Regions from separate parts of the Homo sapiens genome. Here all the other regions are linked to region 1. The links come from fine-mapping of genetic effects on gene expression. A gene starts in region 1. Each other region holds a variant in brackets. All regions are shown on one strand. Distances are between the middles of the regions.

Region 1 (5,294 bases):
ATGCTAAAACTTCAAGAACTTTTAGAGTCTGTACCTGCATTCTGTTAAAAATATAGATTAAAAAATGCTAACATGTTAACACAAAGGACTTTCCAGAAAGACTTAAAGAAAAGTGAAAGGGGAATAACTGTCTTGCAATGTAATTCATTGTCGTTTAAGACTGGGTCTATGGAACACCCTAAATCACCTGGTTCCATCACGTTCTTTTTAACATGGAGATGGATAGTTTTTCCCCATACTCTATATATTGAGCATTCTATAGTTCATGATTTTTCTGCATAGAGAATTGTTCAAGCCGGGGGTGCAGGCTCACCGACTGGATAGTGAATCAAGAAAATAGTGTGTTCATTAGTTCATCATTACCCTGAGTTTCCAACAAGAATTTAGTACAGGAAAGTAGACAGCGGAGCTGGGAGCCATCTATTTGAAACTGTCTTAAGCAAAACTAAGAAACCGAGTAAGCTTGCTTTTGGTGTCTTTCATCCCTTCTTGTGTGCCCCCTAATTATTCACTCCCCAATGCCCAGACATTATGATGCCTTCTCCTGCTCAGAGACCTTTCTGGGAGGAAGACCTACTCAGACCTGGTATTCCCTCATCCTAGGCTCTACCCTATTTTTCATCCAGCTGTTAAAGCTGAGTGACTAATTTCACACTTATGTACGAATGACCCATAACTGGCTTAATGCTGTGACCATCTTGGGGGTATTCAAAGCTGATAAACACTTTTTTAAGTTATATAATAATCAAAGAAGCTTATCTTTCTGCTTTATTTCAAATTTCACCCCACAGGCCTTACTTATTTTTAAGATCAATGATTTTGATGGGCCCCCCCTTCCCACTCTTAATTCAGGGTATTTCTGGCCCCATCCGGATCCAAACTCTAATGCTCATCTCTTCCATACTGTCCTTTGCAGGTCATCGGTATTGCAAGAGTTGCATAAGGCCCAATTCAGTCTCTGCCCCAAAAGCTCAAGTCCAAACTTCAGAATCTGGGAGGACAAGGATTCAGGAAATTTTGTCAGAACTATGAGCTTTGAACTTTCACTTTTATGGTGAGGGTCACATTTGGTCTGAATCAATTAATCCATTACCCGCCCCCCCCCCCCCCCCCACCACCACCATGTGTGAATTCAAAATAATCAACTTGGGTTTATTATAAAAAACAAAATATATTAATATAAGTATACTAAGATTTTTCTAGAAAACTTGGCCGGGCGCGGTGGCTCACGCCTGTAATCCCAGCACTTTGGGAGACCGAGGAGGGCGGATCACAAGGTCAGGAGATCGAGACCATCCTGGCTAACACGGTGAAACCCCATCTGTACTAAAAATACAAAAAATTAGCCGGGCGTGGTGGCGGGCGCCTGTAGTCCCAGCTACTCGGGAGGCTGAGGCGGGAGAATGGCGTGAACCCGGGAGGCGGAGCTTGCAGTGAGCCCAGATCGCGCCACTGCACTCTGCCTGGGTAACAGAGTGAGACCCTGTCTCAAAAAACAACAAACAAATAAACTTAGAAGAATATATGTGACTATTGGCCGGGCGCGGTGGCTCACGCCTGTAATCCCAGCCCTTTGGGAGGCCGAGGCGGGCAGATCACGAGGTCAGGAGATAGAGACCATCCTGGCTAACATGGTGAAACCCTGTCTCTACTAAAAATAAAAAAATAAAAAATAAAAAATGCGAGGTGGCGGGCGCCTGTAGTCCCAGCTATTCAGGAGGCTGAAGCAGGAGAATGGCGTGAACCCGGGAGGCGGAGCTTGCAGTGAGCCGAGATCGCGCCACTGCACTCCAGCCTGGGCAACAGAGTGAGACTCCGTCTCAAAAAAAAAAAAAAAAGAAGAAGAAGAAAGAAAAAGAAAAGAAAAAGGAAAAAGAAAACTTAATTCTGGCAATGGACTGTTTCTAAAATAATATATTAATACTACTTAATGAGGAAGAAAAAACCTCTGACATCCTAAAATGCCAAGTGTTTGCCTTTACCAAGGTTTAAGCACACATAAACACGCATATTCAAATACCACCCAAAGTGGAGGTGCAAAGATCAGCCTGTACCGCACAGTAACACAGACTGGGTTGTTTTTTGTAAAGAAGGCAACTAGTCCAGTGAGTAATCCCTTCATTTTCCACACACATACCCTTCTGTTTTCTCCCTCTCCTCCCCCCACACCCTCCACTGCAGTTAAAACGTAATTCGAAGAAGCCTAAGGTAAAAGCCCCTGCCGCATAATGACCCTAGAGCTTCACCTCACCTACTCTGATTCTTAGTAACCTACCTCTAAGGATGAGAGACAGGGTGCTACGAGCGGGGCGAACTTTGGTCCAGGAGTTAAGAAACCTGAACCCTGGAGTCCTCAAAAAAAATGAATGAAAATAACAGAGGCGCCCTGAGGATCCAAGCTGGGGCGGTGCCAAGGGCTGGCAAGTGAGGTTGGGACAACAGAAGTCAAACGTGCCGTCCTTCCAGATCCCGGCGCTTATGGCGGAAGCCACTCCAGGTGAGAAATCCTAACAGTCATAATGGCATAACAAATAAACATCGGCAAAACAGCAGTCTGCCAACGACGTGCTTCCCTACACAGACGTCCTCCTGTCTCCACACTCTAGAGGGGAGAGGCGGAACAAATGCTGCCTCCGCAGATTTTGGAAATCCGGAAGGGAGCCTCCGAGCCCAGGTCCCGGGCTGGCAGGGGTCTCGCCGGCGCTTGGACCTCGTCTCCCACCCCCGAGCCCACTGCGGCCCCAGAGCCTCGGGAGGGGCCGGGCACTTCCTCTGCCCTCCGGCCTGGGGCAGGGGCCGGGACGCGGTGGGAGTGCAGCGGGGACGGCACCGCCCGAGGGGGCGGGCCCCAAACTTTCGTGCGCGTTGAAAGCTGCTGGCGCGGCGGGGCGGACTCCACCCCTGCCCGGCAGCCCAGCGCCTCCGGCCGCACTTCCAGCTCTCTGCGCAGCCCGCCGCGCAGCCCGCCGCCCCAGCCATGGCGAAGCCCCTGACGGACCAGGAGAAGCGGCGGCAGATCAGCATCCGCGGCATCGTGGGCGTGGAGAACGTGGCAGAGCTGAAGAAGAGTTTCAACCGGCACCTGCACTTCACGCTGGTCAAGGACCGCAACGTGGCCACCACCCGCGACTACTACTTCGCGCTGGCGCACACGGTGCGCGACCACCTGGTGGGGCGCTGGATCCGCACGCAGCAGCACTACTACGACAAGTGCCCCAAGGTAACCGGGGGCGGGACGGCGGGCCGGGGTCCAGCCCGGAGTCGGAGTCTCCGGCCGCGGCCGGGCGGGACGAGGTGGAGAACCCCTCAGAGTGGTCCCTTGCACCCGGTCCTTGCCCCGAAGTCCAGAGGAGACGTGTCTAGGCTGTGGGCGGGCAGCCTGGGGGACAGATTAGGCCTCCCAACAGACGCCGAACTCATGTCTCCGAGGTGCCACCCGCCAGTGTCCCGCCCAAACCACTGTGCCGTCCGCCCCTGGAAACCGCCAGGTGGGCAAAAGCCCAGGCCCCTCTCGCCTGTCCACTTCACAAACTTTTTTGGAACTTTGACTCTCAGCATTTAATCAAGAGGTGACGGGGGCCTCTTGTCCTGTATGCCGGACACTATTCTCTGCCCTGGACACTCAGCCCTAAACAAAAGGGACAAAAATCTTGCCTTGCTGGAGCTTGGTATTTTGGGAGGGGAGACAAACGCCGAGCTGGGAAAAGGTCGTAAGTCTCAGGCCTCTGGGAGTGGCTAAGTGTGGTGCAGAGGAGGGGCAGGGTCCCGCTCCAAGCGTAGAGCGCCGCCCACCCATTCTCCTGAGTGGGTGTAGCTCCTGGAATTCCGTGAGTCTTTCGCAAAGGCGGCCCAGGGCCAGGCAATGCCCTGGACTCGTCCTCCCCGAAGACACACACTCCCCCGACCCTTAGCCCTTCCACACCCGAGGCCTGCCCCCAGAGCTGCTGAGGAAGGCTGGTCAGGGACCACCTCCATCCACGGCGTGGGGGCGGGAGCAGAGACCTCCTTAGGGTGATTTTGGACCTACAGAGGGACAATATCTCTGCCTGACAGTTTGCGAAGAGGGCGAGAGGCAGTGGGGAAGGACTGGGGAGGACATGGCAGGGAGAGGGATTGTGTGCAGGCTGGAGTGAGGGCGGGTGTGAGTCTGTATTGGGAGAGGAAACTGGAGAAGCCAGGTAGAGACATATTGGAAAGAATAAAAGATTGGGATACATCCCAGGGGCAGTGGGAAATATATATAAACATTTATTAGAACTTTTTAATTATGTAAAGGTGTGAAGAAAAAAAAATGGTCTATAATCCCAGTGCCCAAGAAACCCCATAGGAATTTTTAAGAAAGGAAATGAATGTAAATTCTCATAGTAAGAAATTGCAACTGTAACAGTTTTCAAATGGAAAGTAACTCTTCTTCACCCCAAAGACCTAGGCCTCCACCAAGGTAGCAACTGCTAAAATGTATCCTTAAAAATTTAAATGCACCTTAGAAAACACTTTATGTATACATATATTTACTGTTTTGTTGTTTTGTTTTGTTTTGTTTTGTTTTGTTTTGTTTGAGACAGAGTCTCACTCTCGCCCAGGCTGAATGAAGTGCAGCGGCGCCATCTTGGCTCACTGCATCCTTCGCCTCCAGGGTTGAAGCGATTCTCCTGCCTCAGACTCTCGAGTAGCTGGGACTACAGGCTCCTACCACTACACCTGGCTAAGTTTGTATTTTTAGTAGAGACAAGGTTTCACCATGTTGGCCAGGCTGCTCTCAAACTCCTGGCCTCAAATGATCCTCCTTCCTTGGCCTCCCAAAGTGCTGGGATTACAGGTGTGAGCCACCACACTCGGCCACTATCTTTTAAAAATTTATTTACACAAAGGGAATGCTACTAAGTACACCATACTGCGCCTCTCATTAAAAATTATTTTTAACAATTTTAAGCGGAAGGGTGGGACACTGAGCATATATTAGAAACACACACTCACGCCTCTGTAGCATTTAGCATCATAGAGCACCAGAGAATCTTGTATGTTTTTCCTTCAGTGGCTTATGCAGTGCTTTATGGTTTTCCTGGTTCTCCGGCCAGTTTCTTCACTGGGCTCTCCTTTTCTACGTGAGTGCAGATATAAGCCAGGAATTCCGACGTGTGTAAATTCTGATAGCGATACACTGGGGATACAACAATGAACATGTTTCATTCCACACGTGTTCATCAAATATCTACTCCATCACAGTCGTCTGTCTAAACAGGATGGTTCCTGCCCTCATAAAGTAGAGCAAGTAGGTGTGTCCAAGCTCCTCT
Region 2 (5,294 bases), 24 kb before region 1:
AATAACAGGCTTTGCAGAATACGCAAACTTTATCTAGGTGTAGTGTTGTATTAAGACCTGATACACCAGCAGAAAACCACAAATTTCTTTATAGGAAAGAAATCACTCAGTCTTTAAAATTTCTGAGGTCCAGCCAAACCTCCATGCCACTATCAAATTCCACATCTTCAAGATTTCAAGTCAGACCAAGAATTAACACATATGCTGAGGCTAAGCTAGCTATCATCCTAGCTAAGGGGACACTTTGCTTTGATATTAAGAGAATCTGAGCATCTGCTCTCCTTGCCTTAGGGATGGGGAAAGCGAGAATCCCAAGGAATCAGATGAAACACTGAGTCTATTTTTTTTTTTTGAGACGCAGTTTCGCTCTTGTTGCCCAGGCTGGAGTGTAATGGCATGATCTCGGTTCACCGCAACCTCTGTCTCCCAGGTTCAAGCGATTCTCCTGCTTCAGCCTCCCAAGTAGCTGGGACTACAGGCATGTGCCACCAAGCCCAGCTAATTTTGCATTTTTAGTAGGGACGGGTTTTCTCCATGTTGGTCAGGCTGACCTCAAACTCCAAGGGGAGTTGGGATGTGAAATCAGGGGCCCAAAAGAGTACAGGATACAAGGGTGCACCCAGTGACCAGGAGATTCACACGCATCACACACCATGCTTTTTGTTTTGTTTCCCTTTTTTCCTTTTTTTTTTCCTTTATGCATCAAGCTTCATTTCTAAGCTCTTGCCAGGTGTCTGGCAGTAACCAAAGGAAGCTTTATAATACATGGGGTGCACTCCTAGTAAACAATGTCAAAGACACTGTAAAAGGAGAACAACTAAGGAACATCAGTTGTCCCACAAAATTGATCTGACCCAATATGATATTTTTCATGGTCTGAATCCTTCTAGGGCTAGACTAATAATAGCAATTACAATTTTCTTATTTCTCAGATGCAAGGGTTGTGTTTTGTGTTTCTGTTTTGAGAGACAAGGTCTCACATTGTCACTCAGGTTGGCACGCAGTGGCATGATCATAGTTCACTGCAGCCTCAAACTTCTGGGCTCAAGGGATCCTCCTGACTCAGCCTCTTGAGCAGCTGGGACTACAGGCACATACCACCACTACTGGCTAATTTTAAAATTTTTTGTAGGGATGGAATCTTGCTATGTTGCCCAGTCTGGTCTTGAACTCCTGGTCTCAAGGGATCTTCCTGCCTCGGGCTTCCAAAATGCTGGGATTAAAGGCGTGAACCACCAGACCCAGCTGGTTTTTTTGTTTTGTTTTTTACACCTTAACATCTCTCAAATCAAGACACATCTTACAACACATGTCAAAAGAAACTCTTTAGGCTGGGAGCGGTGGTGGCTCACGCCTGTAATCTCAGCACTTTGGGAGGCCAAGGCGGGTGGATCACTTGAGGTCAGGAGTTCGAGACCAGCCTAGCCAACATGGTGAAACCCCCCGTCTCTACTAAAAATACAAAAATTAGCCGAGTGTGATGGTGCATGCCTGTAATCCCAGCTACTCAGAAGGCTGAGGCGGGAGAATCGCTTGAATCCGGGAGGTGGAGATTGCAGTGAGCTGAGATTGTGCCACTGCACTCCAGCCTGGTGACAAAGCGAGACTCTGTCGCAGAAAAAAAAAAAAAGAAAGAAAGACACTCTTCAGCCATTGATAGAGTGGTGGTTCTCAGCCTCCACTGCACACTGAAATCATCTGGGGAACTTTAAGAATACTGATGCTGCCGGGTGCGGTGGCTCACGCCTGTTATCCCAGCACTTTGGGAGGCCGAGGAGGGCGGATCACGAGGTCAGGAGATCGAGACCATCCTGGCTAACACAGTGAAACCCTGTCTCTACTAAAAATACAAAAAAAATTAGCCGGGCGTGGTGGCGGGCACCTGTAGTCCCAGCTACTCCGGAGGCTGAGGCAGGAGAATGGCGTGAACCCGGGAGGCGGAGCTTGCAGTGAGCCGAGATCGCGCCACCGCACTCCAGCCTAGACGACAGAGCGAGATTCCGTCTCAAAAAAAAATAAAGAAAGAAAGAATACTGATGCCAGGTTACTAATTTAGTTGGTCTAAGATGCAGCCTGAGAATCTGGAATTTGTAAGGTGATTCTAATGTGTGTCTAGAGCTGACAGCCCAGAGGTAAGGAATGAGTGGGTAGTGTATACTCAGCAAAGTTTTTATTGCCTACACATTTGGAAAAACAATAAGATGGGGGGCATCATCTTATAACCAACAAAGTGGATCCCTCAAAACATGAAGTCTTTCCATGTTCAGTGTCATGAAGCCAATACACAAAACTAAAATTGTCAAGTAGAGCAGGCTTTATTCAATGGCCATGGAATTAAGAAGTGGAAGCATGGCTCACAAATCAACTTCTTGACCAGTGAGGGGTGAGGGGTGCAAATAAAGAGTTTCTCTAACGAAGAGGATGGACATTAAAAATGAAAAGAGGGGCCGGGCACGGTGGCTCACACCTGTAATCCCAGCACTTTGGGAGGCCAAGGTGGATGGATCACGAGGTCAGGAGTTCAAGACCAGCCTGGCCAATATGGTGAAACCCCTTCTCTACTAAAAACACAAAAATTAGCTGGGTGTGGTGGCACGCACCTGTAATCCCAGCTACTTGGGAGGCTGAGGTAGAAGAATCACTTGAACCTGGGAGGCGGAGGTTGCAGGGAGCCCAGATGGCACCACTGCACTCCAGCCTGGGTAACAGAGCAAGACTCTGTCTCAAAAAAAAAAAGAAAGGAAAATGAAAAGAGGAAGACTCAGGTCTTTTCTGGAAAGGGTCAGTGAACTTCCCAGAACTGGAGTGATGCCTTCCTCCTTTTTTGTCCTTTTATAGCTTCTTCTGGTCATTGTCCTAGCAATTGTCCACTGTTATGGTGATGGTCAGAGTGTCATTTAGCATGGAAATGAGATTATAATGAAGCCCGAGTTCTTTCTGAA[G/T]TCATTTGCTCAGCTATTTTGGTTCTAACCAGTCTCAACTGTTCCGGTTACAAAGGGAACTTTTTATTGCAGGCATCCTGTTTCTTAAAGCAGTGTTAGGGCAGAGCAGAAATTCAGCTATGTCACAGAGGCATTACACCAGCTAACAATTTCATCATTCTGTTACTTGTTATTTCCTTTGAAAGTTGATAAACTTAAATTCACATCTTAATTATCACTTAAAAGGTCTTTTAAAAGATCCCATTATAATGCAGTATAGAAATGAAAAAATATATTGTACATGCATAAAATTAATAATCATTCACTGGATAATATACAATTGAAATAGTCATACACTGGATAATATAATTAATAAAATTGTCAAGATGCTGAGAACAAATCACAAATTTTTGAAATCTAGGAAAAGTTTTTGGGACCAACTGATATGTGAAGAGCTATCATTCAGATGTCTAAATCTGTCAAAAGCTTCCAGCTACTTCCCAGAAGCTCTTTATTTCCTATTATTTATAATTCAGTTAACAGTAGCAATACAAACAAAATAGCCAAAAGAGAAATGCAAAAAAAAAAAAAAAAAGAAAAGAAAGAAAGAAAAAAACACACACATAATCCCACTGCATTCTTTAAATTATTCTGCAGCCTCACAAATATGCTAGCAAGGTCCAGATCTCGTGCAAGGGTAATCATTACATTACGTATAACTGCCAGTGGCCCTGCTTGATACAGAGGTACTTGGGGACCGAATTGTGTTTGTTAGTCTGAAGAGCAAAGTAGCATGTATTGTGGCAGATAATGCATGCTATTGTAAGTAGAGTTTTCCCAAGTGGTATATATTAAATGTTGAACTTGGCTTTGGTTTTCTCCAAAACAGTTCCATTTTTTTTTTTTTTTTTTTTTGAGACAGAGTTTCACTCTTATTGCCCAGGCTGAAGTGCAGTGGTGCGATCTTGGCTCACTGCAACCTCCACCTCCCGGGTCCAAGCAATTATCCTGCCTCAGCCTCCTGAGTAGCTGGGACTACAGGCACACGCCACCATGCCAGGCTAATTTTTGTATTTTTAGTAGAGACGGGGTTTCACCATGTTGGCCAGGCTGGTCTTGAACTCTTGACCTCAGGTGATCCGCCTGCCTCGGTCTCCCAAAGTTCTGGGATTACAGGCGTGAGCCACCATGCCCGGCCAAAAGAGCTACTATTAAGCCAGTAGTGCATCATACAATCTCTAACTAGAACTTCTTACAATTGAGAAATCCAATCACTCATCATATCCGCAGGTTCCACATGGGTGCATTGAAACAAGCTTGGGTTGAAAATGCTGGGAAGGAAATTAAAAAAACAAGAAAAATAATACAAATAAAAGGAATACAGCATAACAACTATTTACAAAGCATTTACATTGCATTAGGTATTATAAGTAATCTAGAGATTTAAAGTATATAGGAGGATTTGCATATGTTACATGCAAATGCTACACCATTTTATATCAGAGACTTAACTATCTGTGAATTTTGGTATCCCAGGGGTGTCCTGAAACCAAGGCTTCACGGATATGGAGAGACAACCGTGCTCTAATAATGTAAGTTGCCAAATATTGAATCTTATTGTTTTCCAGGCAATGTACCAAGGGCTTTTAGTGAATCATCTTACTTACCCTTCATCTTACTTATGCATTTTTATTATTACCATTTTAGAAATGAAGAAACTGAAGCACAAGAGGTTAAGCAACTTGCCCAAAGTCACACAGTATACAAGTATGACAGCCAGGGTTTGAACCCAAATAGTCTGACTCCAAGACACAGGCTCTTAACCTGTAGGTTATATGACATATGATTGCTACACATAGGATGTACCACAGACAACACACTCATTCATACGATTAATATTTAATGAGCACCTATTAAGTGATAAATGCTGTTGTAACAATGCTATTACTGGGAATACCAGTGAATAAAATAGACAAGGTCCCTACGTTCTTAGAGCTGATATTCAAATAGGGAAATAATAAGTAAAGATCAAAATCATTTTAAGTCTTAATAAATACAACACAGGAAATCCAACAGGCTATGAGATAGAGAGATATGGAAAAGTCAGCAATTACCTCTCTGAAGGGGTTATATTTGGGTTGAAGAAGCCAAGACCAAGGGAAGGGGTAAAGGCCTTGAGGCGGGAACAAGCCCAGTAAGTCAAAGAGTTAGTGAGGGTGAGGTGCATGCAGTGAGAGGAAGGAGGGTGGAGAGCCCAGCCTGCTGAGGTTATATGAAAATGCTACACCATTTTATATCAGGGACTTGAGTATCTGTGAATTTCAGTATCTCAGGGAGGTCCTGGAACCAATGCCCCCGCAGACACTGAGGGAC
Region 3 (5,294 bases), 32 kb before region 1:
ATGATTATAAACAGGTTGCAAGACACTGGTTTCACCACACAAAAGGGGGGAGCTTCTAGAGTGACCACAAGGAAATGAACCCCAATTTTTCTCTTTTCCTACAGAACTGAGGGAGGGATCACAAAAGGGGCCACAATTGGGGTCCTCCTCGACTTAAATAGAAAAAACTTGACATTTTTTATCAACGATGAACAACAAGGTCCCATAGCATTTGATAACGTGGAGGGCCTCTTCTTCCCTGCGGTCAGCCTGAACAGGAACGTGCAGGTAAGCACCCTGCCCCTGAGGTTAAACAGCTGTTGCTGGCTACCGGTTCAAAGGCTGCCCAGGGCCGTTCAATCCAACCGAAGAGAGGGAAGCTGACAGCGTAAGGCCCAGACCAAGATATGAAGGAGAGGAGGAGAGAAAGGGATCAGCACTGGCAACTTATTTTATTCCACGCCAAGCATAAGCACCTTCTTTATACTTGGACGCAGACTAGTTAATAGCACATAGGAAACTAGAATTCTCTTCATGGTTGGCTAATGATCATCTCTGTAGCTCTAGTTTCACCTCTAAATAGAAACGAAAGCCTTTAACCAACTGGCATGAAAACAAATAGAATGACTTAACAAAGCTCAGGAGTGCCTGAGAAGAGGTGAGGGTGTAAGACTGAAGCATTAGTATCATTATCAGAAAATCTGAGCATCTTCTCTGCACTCTTGTTTGGCTCTGTTAGGTCCTAAGGGGTAGAAAACATAGTCCCTACCTACAACTTAGTCAATTATTATTTATTATAGAATAAAACAACAGCTTCTCATTTATTCATTCAGCAAATATCTATAGAATGCCTTTAATGTGCCAGGCACAGTTATAAGTGTCTGGGATACATCAGTGAAAAAAAAAAACAAAAAAACAGATAAAAATCTTGCCTTCATAGAACTTACATCTTAGTGATAGGAGACAGACAATAAATAATAAGCATAATTACAATGTTAATCAGATGGTGTGTCAGAAGGTGTTTAGTGCAGTGGAGAAAAGACCAAGGGCCCATGAGTGGTGTGGTTGGGAAGGGCAGCCACAGTATTGCGTAGGTAGGGCTTATCGCAGTTACCGGTGAGCTGAGCCTTAAAGGAGTGAGGGAGTGAGTTGCGTGGAGCCTTCCAGACAGAGGGAACAGCCTGTGCACAGTTTCTAAGGCATGAGGGGCCTTGCATGGGCAAGGAATGGTGGAGAGACTCTTGGGCTGGGGCCTGGAAGGGGGACCAGAGCCATGCATGGGGGAAGAGCTGTGCCCTGCCAGCCGCTGTCAGGACTTAGGGTTTCACTTCCCTCCTGAGCTGGGCATCTCATTAACAACTATGAGCCTCATTCCACAAATGGTTGTCTTGAGATAAGGCTTGAGAATTACAGGTGACTTTTGCCCTATCCAGAACCAGCCTTGGAAACTATTTATCAAAATTCATTGTTGTGTTTCAGTATGTGCAGTAACATTGATTGCAAACTAGCAGCCCCTGCCCTTCTCCCTGCAAGGAGATGGGGTTTTCTAGAAGGCTGGAATCTAATCTTTCAGAGTTCAGCCTCTACACTTTAAGAAAGAAAACCATAAATTACCCTAGAAGCGAGTCTCAGAAAAACCCCATTCAAGGTTTTTCACATTAGCCATTTCCCTTTCAAAGAATATTATACTAGATGCTCTTCAGGGGTTTTCAGGACCTTCTGATTATCTATTGATAAAGACTCTTGGGCTGGAGAAGACAGGGATAAGAACTGCATGAAATGGTTCTAGTTTTATCCATAGCTATCCATTGAGGTTTGGGGATACACGGAAATTGGTAAAATAGTATAATGCCATGTTTTTTCACAACTGGCAATCATCTATGCGACCCCAGAAAGAAATGTTTGCCCTAATTACAATAACTAGTGGACAAGTAATAAGGGAAGTGCTGTCTCTGCGAATCTGTCCTCTATCCATGGATTTGGCAGTGGTCACTGTGGTGTGGCCAGTAGGCTCCTCTATCTGAAAACCAAGGCCTGTGTCTTCAGTTATAAGGAACACAATCTCCCCGGAATCCTTTAAAAGAGGCAGGTGACTAAGAACCATATAATCAAATGTCACCAGGATTTGAGAGCCCACCATGGTGAGCAGCCTGTTACCATAGGCAGGATTCTTCTTGAATTCCGTTTAATGCCTGCTAGCCTAGATGTTTAAAGCGAAGCAAACAGAACACTTTTTGAGTTAGGGACACACCCACGGTACACTGTGTAAAGGGACAGGGGGATGCACGATGCCTCTCAGGACTCACAGTCTCATTCCCCAGGTCACGCTGCACACCGGGCTCCCAGTCCCCGACTTCTACTCCAGCAGAGCATCAATAGCCTAAGGATGTGCCGTGGAGGCGCCAGCTGCCTGTTCTTACCTCC[G/A]CCTGCGAGAGCCACAGCAAGGAGCTCAGCCAGCCGTGGTGGGGTGCAGAGTTGGCAGGAGTGGGAGAAGGAGGAGAGAAAAGCTGGTCCTCTGCAGTCTTTACACCCACAGCTCTGCCCTTTTCCCTTTCAACCTCTCCTCCGCTGTCATGCCTGCTTCCGCTTCCATGTCCAACAATTCTAACCAACAAAGGACCTAGACAGCCCACCAAGTCACTTGGTTCCCACTCCCAGATTTTGCTTTTATTTAACTTAATTTTTTATGTAGGTGAGTTATATTTTCTTTCTTTTCTGATCAGGTTATTGGTGACTTACTGGACTGGCACCGCCAGGAGAAAATTCTCCTGCTAACTTTTTTTCTTAAGCTTTCTGTCAAACAATGAGGTTGTAGGGGGAGGTAGGGAAGAATGAGCTGAATTTGTAGCATACAGCTTACCTGCTAGAATGTTCTTACCCTCTTACCTCTCCTGTAGCGTTAGCTCTGCAGAGCTAAGCTTTGGGAGAATGAATCTATCACTGAGAAGTTTTACTACTCATTGAAGCACAAAAATATCCGCTACACAGGTTCACATCAGGGTAGGATCGTTAGGATGGCTCTATAATTAGGATAGGCCAGAACCCTGGCCACTGTATAAAATTGGAAAGTCTCTAAGACACAGGCAAACCAGGGGACTTAATGATTTGGTTCGTTTATTTAATAAAAGCTTTTAATTGAGAACCTACTATTGACCAGGCACTGTTCAAGACACTAGAACATTATGTTCTAGACACTGTGGGGACACAGTGGTGAACAGACAGGCATGGTCTCTGCCCTTCGGAGCTTATATTCCAGTAGGAGAAAAAGCAAAAATAAAATAATTATAAATGGTCATATGTACTAGAAAGGAAATGGGCAAGGGTCAAAGAGACTCATGGGCAAGATCTTTCAGGCTTCCTAGAATGATGCTAAAAATCCACACATTCTGGCCATAGCACCAGAAATGTACCAACTCAATGCCTTTTCAGCTGCACTATTTAATTATGGTACCTGCTGCCACTCATCACAGAGCCCTTCTTGGTAGAAATGATGTCAGCATTCTTATTTGCTGATGCTGCTATGATACCACGCCTTAAAAATTGACAGTTGAAAAAAAAAAGAGTGACCAGAGGGCAAAGGACCCATTCTCAGTAATGGGAGATCTTGAGTTGCAGTCCACAGCATTCACATTCTCAGGATAAACATGCTTGTCTCCATATATACTATCTGTGCCTGTTATGAATGAAAAATCCATCCACTCTGCTGCCATTCACAGCCTAATTTTCTGGAGTAGTCCAAACAATGTTTGGAAAAACATGGGACTGTATGTCATTACTATGACTGATAGCAGAATAATAATGCATCTTACTTCTATATAGAGATAGACTTACATAGGTTACCCTTGAAATTCATTAGTTTGTCATAAAGTTTTAGGAAAGGTAGGACCCGGAAAGAAGTTCTAATTAGTTGTCTAAATATTTTTCAGTGAGCCAAGAAATTCACCATGAAAAAACAAGAATAACAAATAGAAGGGAAGAGATAGGATGGGAAAGCTAACAAATTAAAGTTTTGGCAAAAAGGAATATATGTAAATAGCTAATTATTTACTTTTGTGCTTACTTTATTTAGATTATTTCTATCAGTTACAATCTTTTTCTAGTTAAGTGTACCTAATTTATGGAATGGGTGCTATCCTGTTTATGTGTGTCTTGGTTTTTCTTGGCTACAGAAAAACTGTTGCAGGGCAACACTAGTTTGATATTTGATTTACTCTCCAATGAGACTCAATGGCTGGGCCGTGGTAGACTCATAGTTCCTCTTGTTCTTTATTAAATTCATCCTGCTAATTAGATTTCTAGTGACTTGTAACATGTAGTTTACACTGAATTGCAATTACAGATGCATACAACTACTATACTAGAAAAAATTGTCATTTCTGATGTGCCAATAAATGATTTTTATGAGAGAATAAAATGTCTCTAGAATTTCTTAGTTTTTATCTATTGCGGATGACAATTCACCTTTGTCAGAGCGATGTTTCTTCAGGAAGATCTCATTGGAAAGGCCCCCAGAGCTCTGGAGAGCATGTGTTCTTTCCCCTGTTTCCTTGGGCATGTGGCACTGCCTTTTGGTTTTACTCATATGAAATTTAACCTGATGTGAAATGTCCAGTGGAGATGTCTGGGGTCTGCTTCCAAGTATTGGGGATTTACTTCTGTTTTTTTTTTTTTTTTTTAGACGGAATCTCACTCTGTCACCAGGCTGGAGTGCAGTGGCGCAATGTTGGCCCAGTGCAATCTCCCCTCCTGGGTTCAAGCAATTCTCCTGCCTCAGCCTCCCGGGTAGCTGGGACTACAGGCACACACCACCACGCCCAGCTAATTTTTTTGTATTTTTATTAGAGACGGGGTTTCACCATGTTGGCCAGGATGGTCTTGATCTCTTGACCTTGTGATCCACCCGTCTCGGCCTCCCAAAGTGCTGGGATTACAGGCGTGAGCCTGGCCTACTTTATTTTTAAAAAGCCACACATTTGGCTTGCAATTTTATAGTACTGCAAAACAGAGTGTCACTGACTTTTTCAAACCTAGCTCCTTTAACATTTCTTTGAATGGCAAAACAATAATTACAACATTATTCATCTACCTAACATTGTTGTTAGCCACTAAAAAAACACTTTGTTTCTTGATTAAAGGAAAAACATTACCTACAAATATATGGTCTGAGTTATAACCTCACAGAGTGGAATAGTACACAGTTGGTAGCTGCTGCTGCTCTCCGTTGATTCCAGTTTCTACACATTCCTCTTTCTGTCACGGGATCCTTGGGGTGTCACTTCTCCAGCCAAAAACCTCTGTGGCTGGCAGCGCCTTCT
Region 4 (5,294 bases), 23 kb after region 1:
ATATGGAAACCCTTGGGAGAAGTCCCGCCCAGAATTCATGCTGCCTGTGCACTTCTATGGAAAAGTAGAACACACCAACACCGGGACCAAGTGGATTGACACTCAAGTATTCAGAGTGCTCGTATAGCCAGCGTTTTGTATAGTATTTAGTACAGTAGATAATACATTGACTATGTAGCATATAGTGGTGATATTGAGTATAGGGCATGTCGTGTTTTGAATAATAGAATATATTTTTGTAAATAAATCTGTTACTTCTCTTAGCGCAGCCCAGTCATTTTGGAGACAAAGGAGCTGAGGCCAAGAGAGGAGTGACTTTTATAAGGGTCATTTTGCAACCAGCTTTGTCAGAAAATTGTCAGTTCTTTTTTTTTTTTTTTTTTTTTTGCCAGAAAATTGTCAGTTCTATAGTAACCAGCATGCTTACCTCTTTGGTTTTATATTAAGGTGTTGATAGCAAAATTGAATAATTTGAAATGTCATTCCTGGCTGGGTGCAGTGGCTCACAACTGTAATCCCAGCACTTTGGGAAGCCGAAGCGGGCAGATCACCTGAGGTCAGGAGTTCAAGACCAGCCTGGCCAACATGGTGAATCCCTATCTGTACTAAAAATACGAAAATTAGCCAGGAGTGGTGGCCCATGCCTATAGTCCCAGCTACATGGGAGGCTGAGGCAGGAGAATCGCTTGAACCTAGGAGGTGGAGGTTGCAGTGAGCTGAGATCATGTCGCTGCACTCCAGCCTGGGTAACAGAGTGAGACTCTGTCTCAAAAAAAATAAAATAAAATAAAATAAAAATAAAAGTTTGCAGTTTACACAATCAATCCTGGAAGCATTTTATTTACACTGTGGGTCCCACTGCTGAGCTAACTTGCATTTACAAAACACCTCTAGATACTGTCATAATGTATCCAGAAATTCAATTAGAGAGAGTGTGTGTTTCTGGGCCAACAGAGGCAAGGTTAGGGGGCAGAGGTAATATAAGTGAGCTGGCCCAAGCCATGCAACTTAGCCTCATAGATTGAAGTCATCACATGAATTAACCCCAAACTGGTACCCAGTGATGTCAGAGCATGAGTCCAGATGTGCTCTGTGCGTGCATGGGATGGCTTCCAATAAAGTCAAATGACACAGTCACGTGTCAGTTTAGGTCCTCTAGGAAACAGACACCAGAGAGAATGAGAAGTGCAAGTGACATATTGGGGGATGCCTATGAAAGACAAAGGGGAGAGGGAGCAGGATGAGGTGGGAAGGCTTCAGACTGTGACACAGGTGTGCCACCTGTGAAAAGTGAAGGGGAAAGAAGCAGCATTCTCAGGGAGAGCCTCAGACCACAGTGCCACTCTGAGCAAGTGGCCAGGCTGATGGAGCCTGACACTAAAGATTGCCCATTAGAGAAGTCTCGGCCCTAGTGTCCCAGCCACATGGAGTGTCCCAGAGAGCGCAGCTTTGGTGTGAGCTCTGAGGGAGCAAGTCCTCTTTGAGGTTCTCTGAAAGAAGATCTAAGCTGTGCACTTCTTGGGCTGCCTTAATTATGCTTCAAGGGTCAGAAGGGTCCAACTCTTGTTTGAACCGAGACTCAATCCCAGCCTGCAAATGACTTTCCCTGATTGATTACAACTTGCTTTAAAAGTCCAGAGACTTTTATCTCTTAATGAAAGATATTTAAATGAGGGTGATTTATTACTTTGAGGTCGCGGTGATCACGAAAGTATGACTGAGTATATGTGATTGATATGGGCCATAATGCTTCATTCATTCACAATTCAGCAGACCAAATTAAAGAGATGCGTGTTTAAGTTTCAATCCTGCCATGACTGTGATCTTGGGCAAGTCACTTCTCTCTCAGCTTCAGCTCCCTCATGTCCAAAATAAGTGGGTTGCACTAAATGAGATCCAGCATCCTCCAGTTCAATTATTCTGTCATTCTCCTTCCTTCGAGCTTGACTCTGATGAGGCCGGGAATAAAAATGAATGATTTCTCACTTGAATTTTCGATGCACTGTGAAACATAGTTAATCTTCCTCTTCTCTATTTCAGTGACTGTCACAAAGATCAAGCTAGATTTTCCAAAGCTTACCTCTTAGACTCAACTCAGCTAATTATCAGCTGATTTGGCAGATCACTGTAGGAATCACTAAAATAACTCCTTATGCAACTTTAAAAATCTAGCATAGCATTTTAAATATTATATGAGATGTTATAGCTTCATAAATTTCCTATTCCATTTACTTTCATCATACTTGAAATCAGATCACTGAAAAACCTATGCAAAACATATTCTAAGTGCTATTTTTTGGTGGGTACAGATTCACAATGTCACTTTGTTTGCATATCATATTTTATTATTATTAGAGCAATGGCTTTATCTGAAACATGAAAGATAAACTTTTTTGGCTGGGTGCAGTGGCTCACGCCTGTAATCCCAGCACTTTGGGAGGCCGAGGTGGATGGATCACGAGGTCAGGAGATCGAAACCATCCTGGCTAACACGGTGAAACCTCGTCTCTACTAAAAATACAAAAAAATTAGCCGGGCATGGTGGCGGGCACCTGTAGTCCCAGCTACTCGGGAGGCTGAGGCAGGAGAATGGTGTGAACTTGCAGTGAGCCGAGATTGCACCACTGCACTCCAGCCTGGGCAACAGAGTGAGACTCCGTCTCAAAAAAAAAAAAAGATAAACTTTTTTGAATACAAATACCATATCATTCCATTCCACTGCATTTATATCAGGGCAAGGGCACATGGAGAGTCAACATAGAAATACTGTAAAGGACCATCAGTGTGGATGGTTTCAGTCACTAGATTGTAC[C/T]AGGTCGGGGAGGAACCACATGTTCCTCTAATACCCTCTGCAGCCCTGAGACCCTCTTCTCCATTTAGGCCTCACACAATTTAAGTTGGTAATGGAGCCAGGAATAGAATTCCATTGCAGTCTCCCAGCCCCTTGTTCAACCTATGTCATCACACTTGGGAAACAATGAGCAGCTGCTTCTGTTTAATCCCACAGGTGGTCCTGGCTCTGCCATATGACACCCCCGTGCCCGGCTACATGAATAACACTGTCAACACCATGCGCCTCTGGTCTGCTCGGGCACCAAATGACTTTAACCTCAGAGACTGTGAGTACAGCACAGGCCTTGGTTTCTTTATGCGTGTGCTTAATCTTTTTGATTGGTAGTTAGAACCAAATTGAGCTTGAAACAAACAAAAAAGCCTTGAGTTTCTGATCTGAACTTCACTGACTAAGCAGGCATTGTATGGAGGAAGTAGGGAGGGCATTTTTAAAGCAATTCTCATGTGAAGTCCAGCATGACGGTGTGTTGAAATCCTTTGGGATTTTTAGGAATTTTAGGAATCCCACATGACACACAGCACAGAGCCAGTGAGATCAAGAGGTTTCCAACAACAATGGCTGGTTTCTCTATTTATTGTTTCTCTAACTTTCCCCTAGTTAATGTTGGAGACTACATTCAGGCTGTGCTGGACCGAAACCTGGCCGAGAACATCTCCCGGGTCCTCTATCCCAATGACAATGTGAGTGATCAAGGTTGCTTTCTTAGTGGCAACAGAGGCAGCTTATTTCACAAGAGCCTGTTCAGTAACCTATAAAACACATTTAATATTGATGTTTTTCCATGTGCAGAACAAGCTCCGTATTTCTTCCTGAATTGTGTAGATTTCTCCTCCCAACCAAGTAAGGAAAACAAATCTGTATAGTGCATGAAATCAGAATTGGTATTTTGCCCTTGATTAGTGACCCCATCACTAATTGGGAAGTTATTGAGATGTATTTTAAAACAAAACCTGGATATAAGAGATGAAGTAAATCACTGGTGAAGCACTGCCTCCTTTCCAGATAGAAATTTTATCTGCAAAGTCAGAAGTCACTGAATATTTTCTGCCTCGCCTCTTCTCTCACTGACTAGGCTCTTTCTGGTCCTCTGCCCTGATGCTAGATGGAGTTAGAGACCCTGGGGCAGACCCATGAACAAACATCTGTTTCTTCTGCCACTGACTTGTATCTTTTTCTTATAGTCAATTATTCTAATTTTATTGTAAATATAGCTTAGTTAAAAAAAAAAAACACTTGGGGCCAGGTGCAATGGCTCATGCCTGTAATCCCAGCACTTTGGGAGTCTGAGGCGGGCAAATCATTTGAGGCCAGAAGTTCGAGACCAGCCTGGCCAACATGACGAAACCCTGTCCCTACTAAAAATACAAAAAAATTAGCCAGGTGTGATGGTAGGCGCCTGTAATCCCAGCTACTGGAGAGGCTGAGGCAGGAAAATCGCTTGAGCCTGGGAGACAGAGATTGCAGTGAGCCGAGATTGCACCACTGCATTCCAGCCTAGGTGACAGAGTGAGACTCTCTCAAAACACACACACACACACACACACACACACACACCACTTGGAACTGGATCTCAGATAACTGCTATTGATTCTTGGTTGTTTTAAATATATGTAACTCTAAACTTCTCTATGGGTAAAATCATTTTCATGAAGCTGTAATGATTTTTTTAAAGTGGTCTCAGAAGCAATAAAATTAGCACTCTGCTTTACAAAGATGGCAGAAGACAAGGATCTTGGGGGGACTAGGACATAAATAGTCCTTAATACCAGATGTCCACCTGGTGTTAAATCATAATCTCTCAGAAAGGAAGATGATTATGTGGATTTTGCTGGAGCATTTTTAGGAACCTAATGGTATATGCTATTATTCCTTTGTGGAAAACATTGTGGCTTCAGTACATTTCAGAGAAATCTCTAACCCAAAAGCAAAAAGTTATTCTATGTCAGGGTCAAAGTAAGAGTTCTTCCAAGTCTGGGACCGTACTGCCAACCTAAACCCAGTCTGCAGGGGCTTGAAATTCATCCTCCTGTCTTCAGTAAGGACCAAAACTAATTTTACTGGGAAATAATCGTCTGCAGTAACTGACAATATATACTAAGTTAGCATGGGGTAAAAAATTGACTAGATTTGTTGGGTAAAAGGGAGTTCTCAGGATCATGTTTTTGTTTGTTTGTTTGTTTGTTTGTTTTTAAGAGTAAGCTGAAAAATCCTTTTATACTGTAATTACAATAACAAATTCATTCTTCTCCTCAACTTGGCCATAGCCCTGGCATAGGTCAGTGATTATACTTTTAAGTATTAGGGAGTTCAGAGCCCCAGATATTCTATATGCAGACCTCTATGCTCATATTCATTAGTTTTAATAAGACTCTGGTCCAAGGCTTACATTTGGGGGATGGGGTGCTCATCATTTTAAAATTTTTAATTTTAATAGTTTTAG

Which allele goes with the higher level. Positions count from the first base shown, and alleles are read on the strand shown. Sizes are in standard deviations (SD) of each study's normalised expression. Not every link is listed here.
As copies of A replace G in region 3, the expression in cerebellar hemisphere of the gene that starts at base 2,898 in region 1 goes up (large effect, 1.4 SD a copy in GTEx).

The links. PIP is the estimated chance that this variant, and not a neighbour inherited with it, causes the effect.
Region 2: its variant is fine-mapped to the expression of PYGL in whole blood (TOPMed, PIP above 0.99).
Region 3: its variant is fine-mapped to the expression of PYGL in cerebellar hemisphere (GTEx, PIP above 0.99). The same link has a PIP of 0.9 or more in cerebellum, cerebral cortex, prefrontal cortex and putamen.
Region 4: its variant is fine-mapped to the expression of PYGL in whole blood (TOPMed, PIP above 0.99).

Annotation. Positions count from the first base shown.
Region 1 is chr14:50,942,087-50,947,380 of GRCh38, reverse strand. PYGL (glycogen phosphorylase L) reads left to right here and starts at 2,898. Exons shown (of 20, transcript NM_002863.5): 1 at 2,898-3,220. The coding sequence starts at 2,978. LOC124903314 (a long non-coding RNA gene) reads left to right here and starts at 4,791. Exons shown (of 2, transcript XR_007064163.1): 1 at 4,791-5,272. LOC400212 (a long non-coding RNA gene) reads left to right here. Exons shown (of 4, transcript NR_170195.1): 4 at 917-1,091. RefSeq lists a silencer at 2,719-2,878 and an enhancer at 3,547-4,070.
Region 2 is chr14:50,965,630-50,970,923 of GRCh38, reverse strand. No RefSeq gene overlaps it. Among named protein-coding and RNA genes, the nearest start is that of PYGL, 24 kb to the right of the region's middle. The variant G/T (reference allele first, on the strand shown) is at 2,943.
Region 3 is chr14:50,974,360-50,979,653 of GRCh38, reverse strand. TRIM9 (tripartite motif containing 9) reads left to right here. Exons shown (of 13, transcript NM_001387360.1): 12 at 105-267; 13 at 2,301-4,388. The coding sequence ends at 2,363. Among named protein-coding and RNA genes, the nearest start is that of PYGL, 33 kb to the right of the region's middle. The variant G/A (reference allele first, on the strand shown) is at 2,404.
Region 4 is chr14:50,918,781-50,924,074 of GRCh38, reverse strand. It overlaps PYGL (glycogen phosphorylase L), which reads left to right. Exons shown (of 20, transcript NM_002863.5): 5 at 1-106; 6 at 3,008-3,119; 7 at 3,452-3,534. Among named protein-coding and RNA genes, the nearest start is that of PYGL, 23 kb to the left of the region's middle. The variant C/T (reference allele first, on the strand shown) is at 2,813.